Linked DNA regions of Homo sapiens: region 1 is linked to region 2. Evidence: fine-mapped expression QTL. A gene starts in region 2. The other region holds a variant in brackets. All regions are shown on one strand. Distances are between the middles of the regions. Region 1 has its middle 20 kb from the start of TMEM229B. Region 2 holds the start of TMEM229B (transmembrane protein 229B).

Region 1 (12,111 bases), 21 kb before region 2:
AGAGGCCTTTCCGCCGCCCAGAGAGGTGGCCGCGAGGGGCCGGCAGCTCCGACCGCGGAGGGCGCGGGCGATGGGGACGGTGAGGGGAAGACTGGGCGACCGGACTTGGGGCTGTAGCAGATCCCGCTTCCTCTTTGCTTTCGGTTTCGAGGCTGCTGCCCCGGTTCGAGATCCAGCCGCAGATTAGATAGGTGGTGCGCCCGGGGCTTGGATTCCCTGCGGGGGATGGGCGCACAGGGGGGCGTGTTGGGGAAGGGGGTGCGCGTTGGCAACTTTCCCTGCCTGAAACAAAGGGGTGTCAGGGGGAAGCGAGGGGCAGCGGTAGGTTGACACCTCCTCTTCTTCCGGGCGGAGAGCACCCAGGAGGCCACCTCAGCAGGGTGGAGGGGGGTGACAGTCTGGGTGGAAGCTGGGGAGCCAGGGCTTGGGAGTGGAAACCAAGGACCCTCCTGAATTAGAGGCTGAGGACTTTCCAGAAGGGAAGGGAACGCTGCCAAAATGACCCCGCCGCCTTCTCCCCAGGGTGCATGGAAAAACTGGGTGATGGACCCCACACCTAGGCGCCCTCCACTCCCCAGGTCCGTGTCCTGGGGCCCAGCCCAGCCCCCTGGCTGCCAGCTCTTCACCTGCCCTCCCTGATCTCTGGTCCTCCGTGAGAGATGCCTGGCTGGGATGGGGAGTGTTACAGCCCGGTTCCTGGCAAGGGCAGGGAGACATTGGCCTCTTTCCCAGGTATCTTCCTTTCCCTCTTTCTATGCTCAGTCAGAAACGGACCCCTTTCCCTTCCTTCCCGGGGACTGTCTCTTTTCTTTCCCCAGGGTTTCCCTGGGGGTGTTTGGCTGCCTTAGGTACAGAGCTTGGAGATAGGAGGGCAGAGTGTTCGGGCACTGCTCAAGGCTCTCCCTGGAGGGAAAGAGCAGGACCCCAGGCAGCTTTCTGCTGGTGTAACCTTGGGGGCTCTGCTCACCAATTCTCATGTGTTCTCAGCACCCTAGTAATAAGTGAGCTATTGCTGTGGCTATCAGCCTTGGGTAATTGAGAGGCCTGGGTTTCTCTCTGCTGTACCAGGAAGAGGGATCAAGGGAGGGCCAAGCAACCTGCCTTGGGGGTGGTACAGTGTCTTTCTCTCTAGAAAACAAATGGGCCAGGTTCCAGGTCCCCAGTGCTTGGCCTTATGTCTCCAGGAACAAGGTGCCTTCAGTTCTGAGCTGGCTTACATGTGACCACCAGCTCCTATCCTGTGGCAGGATAGCCCTTTGGGAGCTCAGATTTTTTTCCCTGTTTGGAAGACAGATACATCTGCTTCCCTGTGAGACAGAAGGCACTGGAGGGCCCTAGACTGGTGGAGGACTCTCCCGCCTGCCTGTGTGAATGACCTAATGATACAAGGATACAAGTAGGTTGGGCCAGGGTGGGCCTGTCAGGACACTTTGCTCTAGAGACACTTTGCTCAGGGGTGTGCTGAGATGACACTTAGCCCCCATCAGGGGCTTTGTGTTTGGAGACAGATACAGGCAACTGGGGACACAGCATGGCAGGCGTTGGGTGGGGACAACAGGCTTTTTTAGTGTTGATTTTGGCCACTTATAGGTACAGGAGCAACGGAGGTTCCAGGACCAATAAGGAGTAGCAGGAGAAAACTGAGTCCCCTGAGCTATAGATTTGTGGCCCTGCAATTTGTGGCTAAAGTCAGATGCAGGTACTGCACCAGAGAAGCACAGCTAGGCCCACTTCTATGGACCTTCCCATTCTAACAGGCAGGCAGGATTGATTTCACTCAATTCCCCACTGGAGCGGCTTTATTGGTTTGTCCCAAGCTATTTATTCGGAGCTGAGGATAATGATATGGAGGCCTGACCTCCGAGCCTCCAGTGGTTAGAGGATGGGCTTTTCCGTGGCATGTTCCTCAAATGTACTGACCTTAAGATGGGAAATTGATACTCTCCTAACTTCCTGTTTTGAAGTGATGAGGCATGAATTTTTACATTTATAAAGTGATTTAAGACCCTCAAGTCCTTGAATGAAAGATATTAAATGAGTTAGTGAGCCTTATACTGTGTTTATTTCGGTTGTATCAGATTTACATATTGTTTCTAAAGGGAAAGGTGTCATTTTACAGGAAGGGACCAAATTACAGCTTTTGTGATAGGCAAAGCTCAGTGTTGGTTTTAAAAGTGTAGTTTTTATCAGAAAAGCTCTCGCTGCAGCACTTAGGCAGCAAGCTTTTTTTTCTGCTTACCTCCCAGGATGGCTTGGAGCTCCTTCCTGGTGGGCTTTTTCCTGGTGTACAGTTTCCAGCTAGAATGTTAGTGACTGTCACCTTCCAGTTTCTGAGGAGGGTCTCCGATGATGTTGGGGACTCTGATGTCATAAGGAAAGACCTGGGTAAGGGCAGTAGAGTGAGGCAGCTTGGTCTTATCGGCAACTGTATCAGATCTGGCTGTCCTTGAGGGGAGGGAAGGGATAGCTAACCCTCCCAGAGCCTGGCTGTTTTCAAGTTTGTATGCTTTTACTTTTCTCCTCCCCCATCTCCCTACCTCCCATATACAGACAAGGTGGTCTGGGTGTATTTTTGAATTGCAGGAACATTCCTTTTAAGGCAAGGATAATTTCTGACCTGGCAAAGCCTTAGCTCCCTTTGTGGCAACACCTGGCTAAGGAGGGAATATCAGACAGGATTCTCATGTTCTGAGCTGAGGAATTTCAGCCTCTATTGGCCAGATCTTCTTCTTACTCTACATCACTTCTCAGAAATCAGGCTTTGTATTTGAAAAGTAAAGTGTAAGCTGATTTCTAGGGAAGGGGTAGGAGGGGGGCACTTTTGGTTTGGTTCCCCTTAGGGAAACTGAGTCCCACTGAGAGTTGTCACACTGGCTGTGGTGTGTGAGAATGCATGTGTTGGGGAAATTTTCCTTTCCTGGGATTTAAGAGCATTTAAAATCAAGTACCCGAGTAGATCCATAGGTTATACTTTTCTGCTATAAGATAAAGATGCACTCAGAATTTACGTACCAGAATTTACATCAGTACCAGGGTGTTTGGTTCAAGACGTATATTTGCCTCAGACTTTGAGCTGTGGGATGCCCCATGCTGCTGTGATTCAAGGAAAAGGCAGTGGTTTTCACCCCGACACACACATCCACAGATAGAACTGAGGCTAAGTCAACCATCACATTTCCAAGATGGAAAAGAGGGTTTGCTCCTTTCCCTGTTTTCCCATTCATCAGGCTGCATTTATACCCAGTGTGGCCTTCGGCTCTCCTCCCCTGTGAGGCTATACTTCATGCTCATTTTAACATCAGTTCCCCTATGTATAAATGTAGTGGAGCGGAGGTCACAGAGTGATGCTGGCCCCCTGCTCCTTCAAAGGATGGTTCTGAAAGGCGACTTTCCACCCTCCTCTGATTTTGGTGCTTCCACTTACCTTTGGATCACAATCCAGTCTGGCAATTTGAGGAACAACCAAAGTCATTGACAATTCATGTTTTTGAACATCCAGCTTTTCACCATCCTTTACTCTGCTGGCTTCCCAGTAGGGAGTTTAATATTTTTTTCGGGATTCTCGGCTCCCAGTGTGGCTGGTATTATAGAAGAGACAGCATCTTTGAAATGAGGGCAAACCATCTACACGGACAGGTCTCGGGTCCTCAGATTGCTCCTTCCGGCTGCTCCATCTTCTAGAAGCATGACAGTTTTTTTTGTTTTTTTGTTTTTTTAAATAAGACTTCAGCTGTCAATTAATGTAGGGAGAGCTAATAAATATGAAAAGATGAGGGGAGAGATCACTTTCTGCCATTCCTTTGCTTTCCAAAAGCCCCTCATTCAGAACATACTGGATTATCCACTTCTGACTGCTTTTGCAGTTAGACTTGAATGACGAATGCCATCTAGCTGGCCCATTCATTCATTGTTTCCTTTCAGTTATTAAGAGGCACCCCTGTCACATGAGCTTCTGGAATGATCCGTTTCCATTGGAAAGGTCACTCACCCTGAGTTTTAGTAAGGCCTTGACATCAGCCCTGAGGAGCTAGGGATGCCAGCCAAGGAGATTGAAGGGCCACAAAGAGAGGATTCTTTTCTAGACTTCTGAGGGGTGATTCATGCTTCAAGATAAAATGTGCTTCCTGGGGCTCCATGGTTTCATTGCTTGCACAGTCAGTGGAGGGACAGGCCCTGGTGCAGCGAGAAGCCCACCTTGCTGACAATAACTGCCATTCTTCAGAGCACCGACAGGGACTTGTTTTTAGCCCACTGACAACCCCCATCTCCTTTTTCATTGCTGTCCTTGGCCAAACCCCATTTTAGTCCCTAAGTCCTTAGTATCTCTCTTCCCCTTGTTCCCAATCAAAAAGGCCTGTTCAAAGCCAGGAATAAGGCAGCCAGAGCATTGGTCTTACTTTCATCTACTTTCTTAAAACACACATGGACAAGAAATATCATTACCACTGGGCAACACAAGCAGCGGTTCCAGATTTTTGTCTTGTTTTCTTTTTCTTTTTCTTTTAGTTTGGCATAAGCAATGAGATGACCTTCTTATACTGACCTATAGATGCTATAAAGCTTTCATATAGCCTGCACAGTTTCTAACACATGGTGAGTGCTTATTAAATCACCAGCTGTGGTACTTGGATGTGATCAGATACCCCGATTTCTAGGTCATTGGGCAATGATTCGTCTGTGTGTGAGCTGATGGTTGGCAAAGGCTTCAGGAATCAGGAAATCTGGGATCCCTCCCTGACTCACTCACTTGTGTGACCTTGGACAGCCCATTTCAGCCCTCTGAGACTTAATTCCACAAATAGAGCTTCAGCTGGCTTCAGTGATCATGGCAATAATAATGACAATCACCATTTATTAGGCTAAGCATTTACATATGTTCTTTTCTCATATCAATGAGATAGCTACTATTAATTATCCCCATCTCACAGCTGGAAACACTGAGGCTCTGCAAGATAAAGTGATCACCCATATCATACAGCTAGTAAGTGTCTAAACTGGGATTTGAATTGAGATCTATCTGATTCTTTTTTTTTTTAATAAAAAAATTTTTTTAGAGACGGGTTCTCTCTCTGTTGCTCAGGCTTTAGTGCAGTGGCACAATCATAGCTCACTGCAGCCTTGAACTCCTGGGTTCAAGTGATCCTCCTGCCTCAGCCTCCCTAGGACTACAGGCATGTGCCACCATACCTAGCTACTTTTAAAATTGTTTATATGGAGACAGAGTCTTTATAACTCGCTATGTTGCACAGGCTGGTCTCAAACTCCTGGCCTCAAGCAATCCTCCTGCCTCAGCCTCCCAAAGTGCTGGGATTACAGGGATAAGCCACATCTCCCAGCCAGTCTGAATCTATTGTGTTTTATAAGCTTGGATCAGATAATAGACCAAATGTTGGGGAGAGGGTAAAAGTGGAGGCAGTATAGGTTAACACATAAAAAGGAGAATTGACCAGGTGC[G/A]GTGGCTCATGCCTGTAATCCCAGCACTTTAGGAGGCCGAGGTGGGTGGATCACCTGAGGTCAGGAGTTCAAGACCAGCCTGAGCAACATGGTGAAACCCCATCTCTACTAAAAACACAAAAATTAGCTGTGCATGGCGGCTCGTGCCTGTAGTCCCAGCTACTTGGGAGGCTGAGGCAGGAGAATCGCTTGAACCTGGGAGGTGGAGGTTGCAGTGAGCAGAGATCATGCCATTGCACTCCAGCTTGGACAACAAGAGTGAAACTCCGTCTCAAAAAAAAAAAGAGAGAGTTGATGTGGATTAAACACAACTAGTTAAAAGGAGACAGAAGTACAGATTCTTGTTTGAAAAACATCATCTCAATGAATGTTCAGTAAGGAGAGGTCTGTACCCTGCAGTAGGGAAGTAGACCAGATGGCCTGGGAGTTACTGTAAAGGGAACACGCTTTCTGCTTGGCATAGGAATACATCTCATAAACCCCATTTCATTTTGAAACCAAAATTTTCCTCTTGCTTAACGGTCTGTTTGGGCAACATTTTTATTTCTGTTGTCCTACTGCCACTAGTCATAGAAGCTTATCTTTGCAGATTCTTGACCCCAATCCTCATCCTCCAACCTAGTTTCTGGGCCTTTCCCTGCCCATCATTATAATTCAGCTGTGGAGACCTGATTATGACTCTGGGGTCCCAGCTACACTGAGCAAAGTACAGCAAACATGAGATTATTCTGTTCTTCTGAGAAAATATTTATAGCCACTGATTTCTCCATTCAAAGGTGACCAGCTAGTAGATTGGGATCCATTCTTGTTTGTTCCAAGCAAGTTAATTGTCTTCTGTTTTTTTTTTTTTTTTTTGAGACAAGGTTTTGCTCTGTCACCCAGGCTGGAGTGCAGTGGCACAATCCCAGCTCAATGAAGCCTCTATCCCTCTATCTCCTGGGCTCAAGGGATCCTCTAGCCTCAGCCTTCCAAGTAGCTGGGACTACAGGTGCAGAACTACACCTGGCCTCTTCCACCATTTTGAAGTATTCATGGAAGAGGAATGAGGGTTAAGGTGGTGGTCCAAGGAAGGTGAGCTGACCCCTCTTGGAGAGCTAGCGTGAGGCTGTATGATGGAACAGTGTGCAAGGGGTCAGGAGACTTGGGTTCTCCTCACAGCTCAGTGACTCTGGGCGTGTGATGCAAGTTTTTTGGCTTTTAGTTTTCTTATCATTTGGACAAGATATTCTCTAACCTCTCTTCAGGTAATAATGCTAGATGATCCAGCCTTTCCTGAGAAAGGCTGAGGTTCCAGCCTTTTTCAGGAAATAACTCAGCTGGTCTGGAACTGTCAGAAGTCAGAGTTGGGAGGGAAGAGATGGTGTTGAAGGAGAAAGAAGTCAAACTGGAAGCTAAGGAACAAAGTCAGAGCTGGAGGAAGTCCCTTCTCAAGAAGGGGGACTAGGACCAGTCATTGCTCTTTTTTTTTTTTTTGAGATGGAGTTTAGCTCTTGCTGCCCAGGCTGGAGTGCAATGTGACTTCGGCTCACAGCAAACTCCACCTCCCGGGTTCAAGCAATTCTCCTGCCTCAGCCTCCCGAGTAGCTGGGATTAGAGGCATGCGCCCCCACGTCCGGCTAATTTTGTATTTTTAGTAGAGACAGGGTTTCTCCATGTTGGTCAGGCTGGTCTGGAACTCCCAACCTCAGGTGAACTGCCGGCCTCAGCCTCCCAAAGTGCTGGGACTACAGGCGTGAGCCAACATGCCCAGCCCAGTCATTGCTCTTTTAACCGCTTCAGTGGGGCAGCTGAGAGGTGGTGTCTGTACACCCTTATACTCACCATTCCTATGTCATGGGGAGCAACCTTTATGTCTTGTCTTAAAACTTAAACTGAGCCAGGCAGGGTGGCTCACACCTGTAATCCTAGCACTTTGGGAGATGGAAACAGGAGAATCACTTGCCAGTTCAAGACTAGCCTAGGCAACACAGTGAGACCTTGTCTTTACACAAAATTAGTTGGACATGGTGGCGCATGTCTGTACTCCCAGTTCCTTGGGAGGCTGAGGTGGGAGGATCACTTAAGCCTGGGAGGTCGAGGCTGCAATGAGCTGTGACCACACCACTGCACTCCAGCTTGGACAAAAGACCGAGACCCTGGGGACTCCAGGGTCTGCTTCAGTCCAGGATTCTTCCCCCTATCCCTGCTCCTCTGCCACTTGGGTCTCCAGAACTTGAGGTCTCTGGTTGATGTTTTTTTGTTTTTGTTTTTGTTTATTTTAGAGACAGGATGTTGTTCTGTCACCCAGGCTGGAGTGCAGTGGCATAATCATAGCTCACTGTAGCCTTGAACTCCTGGGTTCAAGCAATCCTCCCACTTCAGCCTCCCAAGTAGCTAGGACTGTAGTTGCACCACCTATATTAGCACCTGGCTAATTTAGCTGGTGCTTTCTGGGCAACTCAGTGTTAGCGAGAGTATAACCCCCTCTGTTGCCCTAACTACCTGAAAGGGCAAGGCTAAACCATATACTCAGCCCAGGAACTCAGGGACCACGTCTTCTTTGTTCATGGAATTGGGCTATGGCTAGGCTATCTTCAGTTCCCTTTGAACAAGGCTTTTTCTTTTTCTTTCTTTCCTTTTTTGTTTTTAGATGGAATCTGGCCCTGTCGCCAGGCTGGAATGCAGTGGCACGATCTCAGCTCACTGCAACCTTTGCCTCCTGTGTTCAAGCCATTCTCCTGCCTCAGCCTCCTGAGTAGCTGGGACTACAGGTGCATGCCACCACCCCCAGCTAAGTTTTGTATTTTTAGTAGAGATGGAGTTTCACCACGTTGGCCAGGATGGTCTCGATCTCTTTACTTCATGATCTGCCTGCCTTGGCCTCCCAAAGTGTTGGGATTACAGGCATGAGCCACCACTCCTGGCCCAAACAAAGCCATTTTCTAAGGACCCTTGGATTCTTTCATTCCTTCTATTTTCATTTCATCATATTCAAGGTTGAGGAGCAAATGAGTTCCCACTGAACCCACCAAACCAATATTTTCCATCCCTACCTGTCTTACATTTTCCTCACCTCTTATTCCCCTATCCCCATTATTTTTATGGGGGGTACCATGCTACTGGGGGGATGAGAGATGATTTCATTTGGTACAAGGACAAACATTTCATTTTAATAGCTATGTTTCTAATGAGTGTAAAGAAACATGACTCATTGGAATGTACTCATCAAGCAACTTAATTTTGCCTCCCACTGTCTCTTTATGTTTATCCAGTGGGATTAGTTCTTTCCCTGGTCTAGGGTGAAAACTTAGGCCCTGTAACTTTTCTGGTTATTCATAGGAGACGGTTCTGTGATCACTTTAAGTCTTACAAGCATAGTCTCAACTAGGTACAAAATACACCCGCTTTATGAAGCAGAGTCCCATGGAAAAAACTAAAAAATAAAATAAAATAAAAATACATCCACTCCTTTGTCACTGGACTGGGAGGGGCAGGAAAGTGCTCACTGGGTACACTCTGCTGGCTTCCAGCTTCCTGGTCCATATTTTTATCGGATTCTCAGAGAACTCTCCTTACCCTCCCAATTGCTGGGATGTCTCACTTCTATTGTCTTGAAAAGAACAAATTATCAGCCAGGTGAGGTGGCTCACACCTGTAATCCCAACACTTTGGGAGGCTGAGATGGACGGATACCCAAGGTCAGGAGTTCGAGACCAGCCTGGCCAACATGGTGGAAACCCTGTCGCTACTAAAAATACAAAAATTAGATAGGCATGGTGGCGGGCGCCTGTAATCCCAGGGAGGCTGATGCAGGAGAATTGCTTGAACCCTGGAGGCAGAGGTTGCAGTGAGCTGAGATCGCACCACTGCATACCAGCCTGGGCAACAGAGCAAGAATCTGTTTAAAAAAAAAAAAAAAGAGCAAATTATCCTCTATTCTAGATCATTGCTCCTTCCTCAGCCCCTGAAATCCAGTGGTTCACCTCTAGCCTCTTTCAGCTAAGGTCCTTCAGTCTGCCCAAGAGACCATCTCAGAGAAGACCTGCTCTGACCTCATGCCAGCCCACATTAGTGCATGTGGCCCACATTAGTTCAAGGAAACAATCACACATCCCTGGGCACAGTGAACCTGGGAAGGCAGGCTGACCCCAGCTCAGCAGTCTCCCTTGGCTCCTCCAACAGCAGATGGCCAACGTGTGTCCCACCCTTTGGATGTCTCAAGAGGTGATCAGATGCCAGTCCACCATGTCCTCCCAGTTGCAGGGGACAGACATCAAGTTTCCTGAGTGGTCCTGGTGAATTCCCCTCTCACCAGCTTGACAGGAGGGCCAGTTTTCTATGGGGACAGGGTGAGATATCACAGCACACTAACAGCAACCCCAAAATTCCTCCACAAAGATTTTTCCCCAGTCTCTGCCCATTCTGACCCTCTATACCCTCAGCTTGAGAGAGGGGCCCTTGCGCACCTCTTTTGAAAATGCGCATCCTTCTTTGGTGTCACACTTACGAGCATTATACCTGTTGCATCTTGGTGCACCTTGGTGTTCATCTGGAAAGTGATGCAGCTACTCATTTGAGTCAATTTGCTGATTAATTCCTATAGCTGCTTTGACTGGATGTTTTAAAACTTTAAAAAATATCCAAACGCACTTGGGAAATCATAAAAGCAACACAGCAATGCACAATAAAGGAATCTAAAGTGTTCTATTGTGTTTTTGTTTTTGTTTTTGTTTTGTTTTGTTTGAGACGGAGTGTCGCTCTTGTTGCCCTGATTGGAGTGCAATGGTGAGATCTCAGCTCACCTGCAACCTCTGCCTCTCAAGTTCAAGAGATTCTCCTGCCTCAGACTCCCGAGTAGCTGGGATTATGGGCACCCGCCACCACGCCCAGATAATTTTTGTATTTTTAGTAGAGACAGGGTTTCACCAAGTTGGCCAGGCTGGTCTTGAACTCCTGACCTCGTGATCCACCCACCTCGGCCTCCCAAAGTGCTGGGATTACAGGTGTGAGCCACCGCACATGGCCTATTGTTTTTTATTTATTTTTTTGATTTAACATCTTGTTATATGTGTATCATCAAAACCATCATTGTCACAATAAGCCCATGATTTTGTGGATATTATTGCTTAGAACAAGGCTACAGTACATATATAACTGAAAAAAAAACTGACTTAAATGAAAAGGTTAGTGACAACAACTGACATTTATTGGTAGCTTATAATGCCAGGTTGCTGTTTGTAGTACAGTAAACATGCTTTCTCACTTAATCCTCATGAGGAACGTACTTATATTTTCTCTATTTTACAAACAAACTGAGCCTGGGCACGGTGGCTCACGCCTGCAACCCCAGCACTTTGGGAGGCTGAGGTAAGCGCATCACTTGAGGTCAGAAGTCCGAGACCAACCTGGCCAACACAGTGAAACCTCATCTCTACTAAAAATACAAAAATTATCTGGGCATGGTGGTGGGCGCCTGTAATCCCAGCTACTCAGGAGGTTGAGGCAGGAGAATCGCTTGAACCCAGGAGGCAGAGGCTGCAGTGAGCCGAGATCGCACGACTGCACTCCAGCCTGGGTGACAGAGCGAGATCCTGTCTCAAAAATAATAAAAATAAAAATTAAAAAATAGGCTGGGCACAGTGGCTCACGCCTGTAATCCCAGCACTTTGGGAAGCTGAGGCAGGCAGATCACGAGGTCAGGAGTTCAAGACCAGCCTGGCCAACATGGTGAAACCCTGTCTCTACTAAAAATACAAAAATTAACCAGGCATGGTGGTGAGCACCTGTAATCCCAGCTACTCGGGAGGCTGAGGCAGGAGAATTGCTTGAACCCAGGAGGTGGAGGTTGCAGTGAGCTGAGATCGCACGACTGTACTCCAGCCTGGGTGACAGAGCTAGACTCTGTCTCAAAAATAAATAAATAAAAAATAAAAATAATTTAAAAAAAGTAAGCTGAGGCAGAGAGGTGAAGCAGCATGTCCAAGTCACATAATTGGTGTCAAAGCTGGGATTTGAATGGAAAGAATCTGACTCCAGAGTGTGGACTTTTAAACTGCTACCCTCTGTCATTTCCCGCAGGGCAGTGGGCAGCCATGCCGAGTCATGAAGGTGGCATGCAGGGATGGGAAATGCTGCCTTAGGAGGTAATTGACGTCCTTTGCCCTGTCATTCAAGCTCTCCATAGCCTTTACACGCTTTTCCAAACGTATCTCCCCAGCGCCCCCAGGAAATCCTTCTATGCCCTTTCCTAGAGCCTAATCCACTTGCACAACTAATCTGGCATACACACGCCCACCCCTGCTTCAGTTGTTCCACTGCCTGAAGGGCACTCACCTGCCTTGCTGCCTACCCAAACTGTAGTCCTTTTAGAAGCCAGAGACCATCTCTGCTGCAAGTTTGTTTAACCAAAACCACTTCTGTTAGGATCTTTTAACTCCTCTTGTCATTTTGTCACCAGGTCACAATTATTATGTGCTTTTATGCAAAGGACAGTGAACAACAGTTGGCAAACACAGATCCTGATCTCTCCGTGCAGCGCCACTATCTGCTTGTTAGCGTGCGGTTATCTGCTTGTCTGCTAACTTACGCAAGGCTCTCAACTTCCCTGAACATTGGTTTCATCTTTAAAGTGTGTGTCCGGATGATATCCCTTCAGTTTTTAATATTCCATGGTTGTTT
Region 2 (12,111 bases):
GTGCATGGTGGTCTTTCCTGTGGACTGTTACTTAAGGAAAGGAACAGTACCGATTGGTTCAGATGGAGAGCAGACAGCAACTGTCACAGATTCCCCAGAACAACTCTCATCCTTCAATTAAAAAAAAATTATTTTTAAATAAATAAATAAGTTTATTACATGTGTGAGCCACTGCCCCTGGCCTTACCCTGTCAATTTCAGACTGACATCCTTATAGCTCCAAGTCCAAAACAAAAAAGAAAAGGATGCCTCTTTTGTGGTCTCTGTGGCCATTCCAACAAGAATCTCAGGATTGGCTCTGATTGGAGCATGTATCCATCCCTGAACCAATCACAGAACCAGGGGAATGTGGTGCTGTGATTGGCCAGGCTGGGGCCTGATGCTCACCCCAACAGGCAGGGTATTGACAGCATCCAAAGCACACTGACCCTCAGTGTTGGAAATAAAGCTTGGTGTCGCAAAGTGAAACCAGCACTCAGGCAGAAAAAGTTTTCTCAGCAAGGCAATTTACTCCTGCAGAAGGGTGCGGCCTGTGTCAGTTACGATCACGAGAGCACACTGAACAAAGGAGAGCAGGGGTTTTTATCCCTAACACAGACCCTGTTCCTGTGTCCTCCCTGTGTTGGCTGGGGTTGGACCGCACAATCTAAACTAATTCCGATTGGCTACTGTTGACATCATCAAAGGAGGCAAGGGTGGGCACTTGGCGGGAAAGACAAGTACACAGGTGATGGCATATGCTTGGGCGTGTTTGGGTGCAACAGAGATAGGGAGGGCTGATAGATGGATGGGTAAGATTACTTTCAGAATAGAACAAAGAACAAGGAACTGAAACCTTTGAAGATAAACTGTGCCTAACACCAGCTACTCTGGCCTTGCTGTTTCTCAAACTTGTCTAACTTTCTCCTACTTCAGGGTCTCTTCACTAACTGTCCTCTCTGCCTGGAATGCTTTTCCCAAAGTTCTTTGCACGGCTTCTTCTCATCTTTCTAACCTATGCCCAAATGCTACCTCCTTAACATTTAAGACTCACCTTCCAGCATCGGGTTTCTTTATTTCCCCCACCTGGCCTTCCCCATCTTCATGGCATAATATTAAAACTTATAGTATGTTTAGAGCTGCTTAGTTATTGCTGATCTCCCACCTGCCTGTGAGCTCCAAGGGGGCAGGAACATTGTCTTGTTCACACATGGTACAGTACCTGGCCTTCACTGGGTCTCAGTAAATATTTGTTGACTGCTGGAATATAACACCTTGAATAAATAAACCAGCTACCACAGGACTTCTTGGACTAAGTTCCCTTGTTGTTTAGAAATCTCTAGGTGGCTTGGCTGTACAGGCTGTGAAAAGCGGAGTCCTGTTGTCACACCATAAGAGCGGTCCAGGCTTGTCTTCTGAAAGCCCTGCTGGGCTTCTTTCTGCCTCCCTGGTGAGGCAACAAAGGGGCAGGGTCCCCATCACTTCTGAAGGTGCAGCGTGGCAGGGTAACCTCCAGGACACCCTAAGGACATGGGCAGTAGTGGGAAGAACCCAGATAAAATCCTGGTCACTTTGCCAGTGAGGCTGTGAGGCCACTGCCTCTTTTTTCTGACTGACAGGAGAAGGCTTGCTGGTCTCATGTGCAGAGTATTCTAGGGCCTCTCAGCCGCTGCCTGATGGGATCTGCATAGGGGATTATTGATGAAGGCAAGGTGAGGCAGCTCTTTACAGTAACACATGCCTCACTCTGGGACGGCGGCCAGGCAGCTAATTAGAGAGCCCAGCAGCTGTCCAGCCTTTCAGGCAGCAAGCAGCAGCTACTGATTGCCGGGGGTGGGAATGGGAGGAAATAGACGTGGGACCAGAGACCACCCTCCAAGGCGATGGAGTTGGGTGGTCAGGGTTTGCTCAGTGGGGGACTTTGAGAGGGGCATGTGAGATAGAGTGGGCTAGATGGGGAGGAGGAAGGGGGAGAGGAGAGGGAAAGGACAGGTGGCCTCCAAGTGAGACAGAAGACAGTGGGGTGAGATGTCAGGCAGGTGGGGCAATGCAGCTTCCAAGCTCAGAGCAAGGGGCACAGAGGGGAAGGACAGGGCCCCGTGGGGTTGGGGCCTGGCTCCCATCTCCATGCACCTTCCCCATGCCAGGCAGGCCCCCGCGGCCTGGGCCTCTCCTTGCTTCCTGGGGGAGCTGGACAGACACAGGCTTTCCCCTCAGGGAATCTGGAATACTGATTGCTTTTGTAGTTGAGCTTGGCCCCTCCTTGGTGTAGGAAGTTACCAGATCCATTTGTGCTCAGGGCTTTTCTTACTCTAGGATAAGTAAAAGTGGTTGTTCTGAGTCACGTGAGAAGAACTGGGGGCTTTGAGTAACCAGAGGGCTCCCCAGTGGGCCTTTAGGCATCTTCTCTACTTTGTGGGCACCTGGGTCAGGGTGCGGTGTAATAAGAAATGTATTCGGTCTTTGTCCCGGGTCCCTGTCATAGAGCTCCTAAAACCCTTGAAATTTCCTGAGTGAAAGGAATGTCTTTTGTTATTCATAATAAGCACCTTTGATAACACCTGAGTTTATGCTAATGAAGTTACTGGGGAAGTGGTGGGGTGGTGGAGGGGCTAGACAGCCTCAGGATGGAGCCAGTCTCCAGAAAGACCAAATGCTTAGAGGATTAGAACATTTGGCCTCACCCTCCAACCTCCAAGAAAGGTGTGGGAGGGTGGAGATCAAGCTACATAAAAACTCTTGAATAAGATTTGATAGGTTTCTGGGTGGCTGAACATGTGGCGGTGCTGGTGGGTGACCCCCCAATACGTCACCCTATCCATCTCTGCATCTGGTTGCTCATCTGCACCCTTTGTGATAAATCAGTAAAGGTAAGTGTTTCCCCGGGTTCTGTGAGCCATCCTAGCAAATTAATAGAACCCAAGGAGGCGGTCATGGGAACCCTGGTTTGTAACCAATTGTTCAGAAGTATAGGTGACGATCTACTTGTGACTGGCATCTGAAGTGGGGGCAGTCTTGTGGGACTGAGCCCTCAGAATGTGGGATCTGCTGCTATCTCAGGATAGATAGCATCAGAGTTTAAATGAACTGTAGGAGACCCAGTTGGTGTCTGCTGGAGAAATGTGACCAGATATGGGGGGCATATCTGCCCCCCTCCACGCCCACCCCATATCTGGTCACAGAAGTGTTCTGCTTTGAGTGTGAGAGCAGAAGGAAAAAACTTTTTTTCCTTTACAGGGAGATTTGGGGAGTGTTAAGGAAAAGGAGAGTGGGGGTAAAAAAACAGAGGTAGTATTTGCCTGCATGCTTTCTGGCTCCAGTGTTAGGTTCCAGGCCAAGGAGATGATGAGGGGCCGGGGAGAGAGATCTGATTTTTAGGTTCTGGTCAGAGAAGCAGAGACTCAATCCTGCAAGCCCAGCTTACCTTAAATAGTTATAGGAAAGGAGAGAAAATGGTGCGAAGGGAATTTCCTGCCAGTAGCCTCTTTGGGAAGTGAATCCTATGTGCATGAAAACTGATGTGGCTTTTGAGAGTGCCAGCACATTGTAGAAATAACAGAACAGGAGTTGTTATTCTCTGACCTGAACCTGCGCTTGGCCCCTTGCCCACATAGGAGGCTGCAGTATCTCCCCTGATGCCTGGAACAGTCTGTTCCTGCCCCAGTCTTCCTTGCGTGATGTTGGACATGCCTTCTGTATTGTGCAAACCCAGGCCGCCCACTCTGCCTCTCTTCATTCTCTGGTGGTGCAATGGCTCCTGGAGATGGGAGAAAGGAGAGTGAGCACACTCCTTGCTTCCTTCACCTGCAGAGACAGCCTTGCCTTTAGTAAACCAACATGTATGGCTCATCTGTGATGGTGGCCTATAAATTAGAGAAAAACACAAGACATTGCTATGTTTGATTAGTAACATTGGATGTTTCAGTCGCCCAAGAATTTAAATGCAGCTGGGCCCTTCTCCACCTTGCCTGTCCATCCATCCAGCAGAAATTTTATGATCTCAAGAAATTCATAGCGTGGTGGGGGAAACAGACACATAGACAGAATTTTTTTTTTTTTTTTGAGACGGAGTCTCGCTCTGTCGCCCAGGCTGGAGTGCAGTGGCGTGGTCTCAGATCACTGCAAGCTCTGCCTCCCAGGTTCACGCCATTCTCCTGCCTCAGCCTCCCAAGTAGCTGGGACTACAGGTGCCCACCATCACACCTGGCTAATTTTTTGTGCTTTTAGTAGAGATGGGGTTTCACCATGTTAGCCAGGATGGTCTCGATCTCCTGACCTCGTGATCCGCCCGCCTCGGCCTCCCAATGTGCTGGGATTACAGGCGTGAGCCACCGCGCCCGGCTACATAGAAAGAATTTTAAGATGGGATGACATGTTTCAGTTGAAGGATGGTCAGATCCCCCTGGGAACATCAGTGATGGAATGACCTGGAGGTTGTGGGACGGCATCGCAAAGGAGTGAGGAGGGAGCAGGGTCTGGAAGAAGGAGTCAGAATGGTGGCTGCAGAGGAGGGCAGGAGAGATGACAGTGCTTGAAACAGGCCGGTGGTCTCTGCTTCTTCACGCTCCCAGCAGCGTCTCAGGCATATTGACCAGAAGCTGCATGGACAAACTCAGCTATAAGTTTGCAAAATAAGCAGCTTACTTGGAATGGACTAAGTAGTTTACACTGACTTGAAGACCCTTGCATGCAGACATGTGCCTTAAGGATGAGATTTGGGTGGGAAGCAGTTCGAAGGCACATTGTATGGGGACAGGGTGATTCTGGAGGCTGAGGACTGGGATTTGAATCAAATGTTTGGATTTGGCCAAATCTCTTAATGTCCTGAACCCTCTGTGTTTTCATTTCTAAAATAGAGGTGACCATTTCTGCCCTTCCTGCCCCTCAGGAGCCTGAGAAAATCATGAGAGATGATCTAAGTTCCATCCATATGTTAGTTGCTATAAGGGCTCATCATTCATTCATATGTTCCAAGAAACTCTGGTTCAGGTCCTGCAGTCCTCAAAGGAGCCTCATGTCCCCTGTCCCCTGGGATCTACTCTTGGGGGATAGGGAGTGTCAGTGAGGCCTAGGGACAGCTTATGCACTTGGAGGGAGAGGTGCACCATCATCTCATCCTCCCTGCAACTAAGTTTTTCCTGGGGAAAAAGCCTGCAGACCAGGAAGTGGGAGGTGTCTGGTGGGACACTGCCCTCAAAAGGAGCCTTTCTGAGTGCTGGGGCTTCATCTGCCAGGGCTGCACCTCAGCAGGCAGTGGGCTCCCAGAGCTGGCTGCAGTAACCCGCAGGCTGTGCCGGCAGGATGTGGTCTTTGGTTTCTGTTTCTGTTTTAGTTCTGACTTGTGCCGTGGATGTGGCTGAGGGCCTAGGGTGGGGAGAAGTCTCCACAGGTGGGATTGAACTCCCCAGGCACATGGTCCTTGTGGTGCTGGTGGAGAGAGAGTCCCAGAGGGTTCGGACATGCTCCGTTAAAACCTTTTCCTCAAGGTGATAGGTACGTGTCAAGGTGACCCCTGTCCGCCATCCGGCAGGCTGGAAGAAGCCGGTAAGATGGACAGATCAGGGAGGGTTGGAGGGTCCCGTTTGTGAAGGAGCTGGGGAGGGGGAGGCAAGGCTGAGCACAGCAGCCCACTGTGATGCTCTCAGTGCAGAGGCCCCGGGGGGAGACCCAGGGGGGCACCCCCCAAAACCACACCATACAGTGAGTTTCAGTTCCCCCACTCCTGCCCTTTCACTTCTCCTCGGCTGCCTGGCTGCCTCACAGGTTGTCAGCTTGAGCAAGGGCCCAAGCGGCCTCTACTCAGAGACCCTGGTGGTCAGAGGGGAGTGGGGAAGGTGGACATGGGCATCAGCACAGACCAGCACCTCTGGTCCATCCTGCCTGGTCATCCACAGGGGAGTGCCAGCTCCCACCCCCAGCCACATACTGTTCTCAGCTTCTGAGTGGCTGGGCTGTCCCAGAGGGCCATGCTGGGCCTGAGTGCTGTCCTTGGGCATATGCAGATGGTGTTGTATCCAGGGGGTTTTCAGGGAAGCTTTAGCACTTTCATATTAAAACAAAAAATGTTGGAATCTCCATTAAATAGTCAAGTCTTAGGGATAGTAGTAAAAACATGGCTGTACATGGCTGGCCAGGCACAGTGGCTCACGCCTATAATCCTAGCACTTTGGGAGGCTGAGGTGGGAGGGTTGGCCAAGAGCTTGAGACCAGCCTGGTCAACATAGCAAGACCCGTCTCTACTTGATTTTTTTTTTTAAAGTACATGGCAAAGGGCATTATAAAGTAAGATTTGTATTAGCTTGTAGCTGGTTACTGATGTTCATAGGAAGGGCCTCAACCATAATAATGGTGAAATAATAAAATGAGATGAATAAATATTAGAGAGGTAGAATAGTACGTAGAAAGGTTTAGCACACATTTTGTTTTTCTGCACGAGTGGTTGTTCTCTGCTTTCAAAGTGCTGAAACGAATGTCCTACATTGTCTGCCTTCCATGAGGTTCTGACCGCCCTTGAGAACAGATGTACCCACTACAGGGTGAAGGTGAGAATGTAATTTGAAGCTGAATGAGAATGGAGCTGGATTCTAAAATTATATCCCCTCTCAGATTCACAAGTGTTCACACATTTAGGCAAGAAGCCCTAAGTCCTAACCCTGGACATGTGGATTGTCCAGGACCATCCCAGACTTTTGTGGCTGGATTAATCAGACCTGAGCAAACTGGATGCAAAGAGGAGGGGGTAGGTTCCGGGAAGGGGCCCTGGTGGCCAGGGTGGGATGAGTGTCTGGTGCTGAGCCCAGAGCCCAGGCCCTTGCAATGTTTTTCTTGGATCTGCTGGGGGCAGTTTAAGCTAATAAAAGCCTCCTCTTTTATTCCCAGGGACACATGGAAGCTGCCAGCCCCCCAGCCAAGGATCAGCTGAGCCCTAGGGCTGATGCTTGCCTACGTTGCTGAGAATGGCACTGAGGCCCAGCCAACAAAGGTTAACCCAGGACACTCCTGGACAGTGATCCTGATGTCTGTTGTGAGCTGCACACTCAAGGGTGTGATAAGTGAGTATGTTACAAGCACCCAGGGGATCACCAGCCCAGCGATCCTGCCTGCTCGGCACCTCATCAGCATGGGCACGAGTCTGGAGGTTCTAGTTCTGAGTCTGTTCCCCATCCAAGGTCCTGTCACAGGGCAATGGGAGGGGAATGTCAAGCAATATTGGGCCATCACATGCGGGAGCCGTCTTATGGCCACATGGCCTCTAAAATCCAGGCCAGACCCAGTGTATTAGTTTGTTTTCGTGCTGCTGATAAAGACATACGTAAGAGTGGAAAATGTATACAGAAAAAGAGGGTTAATTCCACGTGTCTGGGGAAGCCTCACAATCATGGTGGAAGGCAAGGGGAAGCAAGTCACATATTACAAGGTTGGTAGCAAGCAGAAAGAGAGCTTGTGCAGGGAAACTCTCCCTTATAAAACCATCAGATCAGCCGGGCACTGTGGCTCACGCCTGTAATCCCAGCACTTTGGGAGGCCGAGGTGGGTGGATCGCAAGGTCAACAGATTGAGACCATCCTGGCCAACATGGTGAAACCCCATCTGTACTAAAAATACAAAAATTAGCTGGGCATTGTGGCATGCACCTGTGGTCCCAGCTATTCAGGAGGCTGAGGCAGGAGAATCGCTTGAACCTGGGAGGCAGAGGTTGCAGTGAGCCAAGATCGTGCCATTGCACCCCAGCCTGGCAACAGAGCAAGACTCTGTCTCAAAACAAAACAAAACAAAAACCCATCAGATCTCATGAGATTTATTCACTATCACAAGAACAGCATGAGAAAGACCTGGCCCCATGATTCAATTACCTCCCACCCAGTTCCTCCCACAACATGGTGGAAATTCAAGATGAGATTTGGGTGAGGACACAGCCAAACCATATCATTCAGATTGTCTGGCGTGAGTGAAGCGAGCACTCACACCTGGGAAACAGCATCTACTTTGGCCGTCAGGCTTCAGATCTGTGCAGTGAGGACCATGCATCACCTGGGACTGGACTCTGCCCAGAAGCCATGAGCAATGCATGTGCTGCTGGTCTAGGAGGCCTGGAGTAGGGCATCCAGGGCCCTGGGAGGTGGGGGGATTTGTGAGCCTTAGCTGCCATAAGAGTGACCACCAGGGGATCTGGAGGAGCATGTCCTCTTGCTTTTGTCACATATCAGCAGCAGCATCTCCTCCTCAGCGAGACAAGCTCGAGGTAGGGTGAGAGGCTCCTAACTGCACAGCCCTGCCTGTCCTCACAGGCCTTTCTTTCCAGCCTCAGCCCCTGGCTTTTCCTTGATGATGCCTTAAAAAATGACAATTGGCTGCTTTCCCAACCCCCAGAGGCCTGTCTGGCCTGAAGGCTGTTATGTCTGTGCAGGGCCCGTAGCCTGGTGGGATCAGAGGCCTGCAGGAAGGAAGCTCCCCAGAAGGCATGGCAGGCAGAGCTGGGCTTTTGCAATCTTGAACAGACAAGCTTTTTTTGGAGTTCCTAGGCTGGTCCATGGGAACCCAGAGCTTCAGATTCCATGCAGGAATTTGCAGGGAGTAGAAAAGGGGTAATCAGGTCTTTTTCCACTTTAGGTAGATCTTGACTCTCCTAGTTGACAGTTTATAATTCAGGGCCAGAATCTGTTTTCCACTCAGCCTGGGCTTACAAAGTCAGTTTGACTGGAGAGTTTCTCAGGAAGTGTGTTCTTGAGTTGATTTGTAGCCAGGGTGGTGTGAGCAAGCCTAGACTGTAGGAGGGGAGTTGGGGGTAAAGAGATGGCCATGGGTGCCTCTGTGGGAACGTCGTTCCTCAGATGGGAGGCACATCTCCCCAGAGCAATTTATGCCATCAGCCTTAAGGCTGTTGTACCGTTTGGTTCAGTGATTCTCCTTCTGGAATTATCCATTAAGATATATTATTAGGAAATAGTACCAGAGAAGAAAAGGGCTGAATTCTTCCATTACAGGCATTAAAGGTAATTCTCGTTATATCATCTGTAGTAGTAGAAATGGGAAACAACTGTTCCCTTTGGACATCTAGGTTAAGTAAATTACAGTTTTCCGCTTGCTGGAATATTACACAGCCATTATAATAATGAGCACAGAGGCTATATAACAACTTGGAAAAACAGTTATGACAAGTAAAAATGGCAGGTTGCAGAATAAGTATATTATGGTGACTTGTAAAATACACACATAGGAAAATATTGCAAAGGAGAAATGGTAATCGCTGTTAGTTCAGAATTATGAGTGCTTTTTCTTTTTTTTTCTTTATTAGAAATGAGGTCTCACTATGTTGCCCAGGCTGGTCTCAAACTCCTGGGCTCAAGCAGTCCTCCCGCCTCAGCCTCCCAAAATGCTGGGATTACAGGTGTGAGCCCCCATGCCCGGCCTATGAATGCTTCTTCTATGATGCATGGATTGGCTTTTTAAAAAATAAAATTGAATCCGGATGACTACACAACATACCATTAATAGTGACTTTCTCTAAGATGTGTGATTACAGGGAACTTTTGCTTTCTATGTCATTCTGTAATGTTTAAATTTCAGCTGTGAGCACATGTTGCTTTTATAATTAGAAAAAAAATTAAATGCTAGAATTAAATGTTTTAGAAGGCTATATTTCTCAAGAAAGGAGGGAAGAGAGACCGAGGCAGCTAGCTGTTTATACCTGCCCTCATCAGTGTTTAAGGGCCTGGGCCTGTTTGGGCCCACTCATCCATCCATTCATTCCACAAGTATTACTAGGTATTATTGCCAGGCACCACTCTAGGCACTGACTAAACAGCAGTGAACAAGACAGTGCCCCTGCTCTCATGAAGTTTTCATTCTAGTTGAGGAGAGACAGACCATAAATAAGTAGCAACATATCAGAAAGTGAAAGTGCTATGTAGAAAATAAAATGGAATGATGTGAGTGACAGAGAGGCTATTTTGGACTGGGGATCAAAAGTCCCTGAGATATGACAGCTCAGCTGAGATCTGAATGGTAACAGCAAGGCAGCCACATACAGGTCTGGGATGCCAGCCTGCCAGTCCCCCGTGCAGGGCATCCTTCGCTTTCTGAGCCCCAGGGACCTCTGTGCCAGAACTGACTCCATCCCCCAAGCCCACTCACCCTGCCCTGCCTCCTGCTGCGGTTTGCTTGGGATCTGAGGCCCCCTGAAATCCTCTGTGTTCGGACCGCTCCTCCTGACATGCTGGCTGTTGCTCCTCTGGGCAGCTGGCCCCTGCTCTTGGCTGGTGTCTCCATGGCAGGGCTGGGCCGGGCCATCTGAGACTCCCAGGAGCACTGGTGTGGGCTGGCAGTCAGGGGGCCTCTGGGTTGTGTGTGTCCTGGTGAGGGGCCTTTGAATGGCGCATGCCTTGGGGCCTGAGGGTTGGTTGCTGTCATGGTCCTGTGACTGTCAGCTTTGACCCTGGAGGGCCTCTGTGTGGATCCCGAGGAACAGGCTGGGAGCCTTTAGGAACTCTGACACCCAGTTGGGAAGTTTGTTAATGAACCACCTAGAAGTTCACAACCTTCTCCTTGCTTCCTGTTGTCTCTCCACATACCATCCCAGCCTTCCAGAAGCAGGAACTCAGAAAATGGTAGTGCCCTCAGAGGAGCCTGCAGTCAGCCTCGGGGGCAGTGCAGTGTGCTGATTAGGAGCAAAGACTCTGGAACCAGATTTGTGGGGTTTGAATCCCAGCCTTGCCTTTTATAGTTATTAGAATGTAGGCTCGGCCAGGTGTGGTGACTCGTGCCTATAATCCCAGCACTTTGGGAGGCCGAGGCAGGCAGATCACTTGAGGTCAGGAGTTCAAGACCAGCCTGGCCAACATGGTGAAACCTCGTCTTTACTAAAAATACAAAAATTAGCTGGGTGTGGTGGCAGGAACCTATAATCCCAGCCTCTTGGGAGGCTGAGGCATGAGAATTGCTTGAACCCGGGCGACAGAGGTTGCAGTGAGCCAAGTTCACACCACTGCACTACAGCCTGGGTGACAAAGTGAGACTCCATCTAAAAAAACAAAAAACAAACAAAAAAAGAACGTAGCCTCTTTCTGCCTCACTTTCCCCATCTGTAAAATGGGCTTGAGAATTTTTTGAGTTAATACATGGAAATACTGAGAAGAGCACCTGGTTATTATTATTACTGTGACTTGGGAGGTGGAGGGAGGACTTCATCAAGGCCTGCAGTATCACTAATCCCAGGGGCTTTCCTTGGGGGGCACCCACAGCAAGAGGGTGGAAGTCTGCAGCATGTGCACCAGCCAGTGGCTACAGGAGTTTCCCTCCACTTGCTTCCCTTCTGGCCCTGGGCAAGCCCTATTTTCCTCCCTGCTAACTTGATGACAACAGGGGAAGTTCAGGGAGGTTTCTGCCCTTTCCTCATTGAAGCCACTTATCTTCAGCACAGAGCCGCCCAAGGGCTCCTGAAGCTGTCCCCCGCTGCGTTGCCTCAGGGGTCTCCTAGAAGGGCTGTGGGTCTCCCCAGAACATGGAACTGTAGTGATGGGGGTGGCTGGGGATGGGGAGTGAAGCTTGGGAAGTGAGTGGAGTGAAAGCGGAAGGCCTTCCCAGCCCGGTTGCATGGGAGGGGAATCCCAATTTTCTGGCCAGATGCTTCTCTGGACAAAAATTCCCAGAGTCACTGTGTTGTGGCACCTTAGCCCCCTGAAACAAGATGGGAGTTTTTGACAAAACCAAGGGCAGTTATTCCATCTGGTTTTGCCTTCAGCCTGTCTTAGACTTTTATGGCAGCCTCTTTACCCCTCTCAACTGCTGGCCATGTCCCCTGCCACCCTGTGGAACAGCAGGCTCGGAGAGCAGCCGGTGAGATGCTCTTAGTGAACAGGGCTCTGAAAGCCAGATCCCCTTCCCCTTCCCCATCACCTGTTCCCTTGAAGGGGTAGTTCCTAGACCTCACAAGTCACCTTGAGTCCTGGCCCTTCGATGGGACTCTGTTTGCCCAGGCCCTTTCATCAGGTATGAGGACTCTCGGATTTGAATGTTGTTCAATGAAACCCTGCTTGTGAAGCTATCCTTTGCTCTCCAAACTCTGTCCTCCTGCATTCAACCTTGCTCACACTCTCCTCCTCTTCAATCCACCCTGAATTTCTGTTCCTGGGC

The links. PIP is the estimated chance that this variant, and not a neighbour inherited with it, causes the effect.
Region 1: its variant is fine-mapped to the expression of TMEM229B in whole blood (INTERVAL, PIP above 0.99).

The regions. Positions count from the first base shown.
Region 1 is chr14:67,502,952-67,515,062 of GRCh38, reverse strand. It overlaps a transcript of GPHN not described here and a transcript of TMEM229B not described here. Among named protein-coding and RNA genes, the nearest start is that of TMEM229B, 20 kb to the right of the region's middle. RefSeq lists a silencer at 1-103. The variant G/A (reference allele first, on the strand shown) is at 5,455.
Region 2 is chr14:67,481,920-67,494,030 of GRCh38, reverse strand. It overlaps TMEM229B (transmembrane protein 229B), which reads left to right and starts at 5,310. Exons shown (of 3, transcript NM_001348543.2): 1 at 5,310-5,523; 2 at 6,859-7,031. It also overlaps a transcript of GPHN not described here. RefSeq lists enhancers at 1,549-2,088, 2,089-2,629, 5,179-5,598, 5,236-5,735, 5,899-5,968.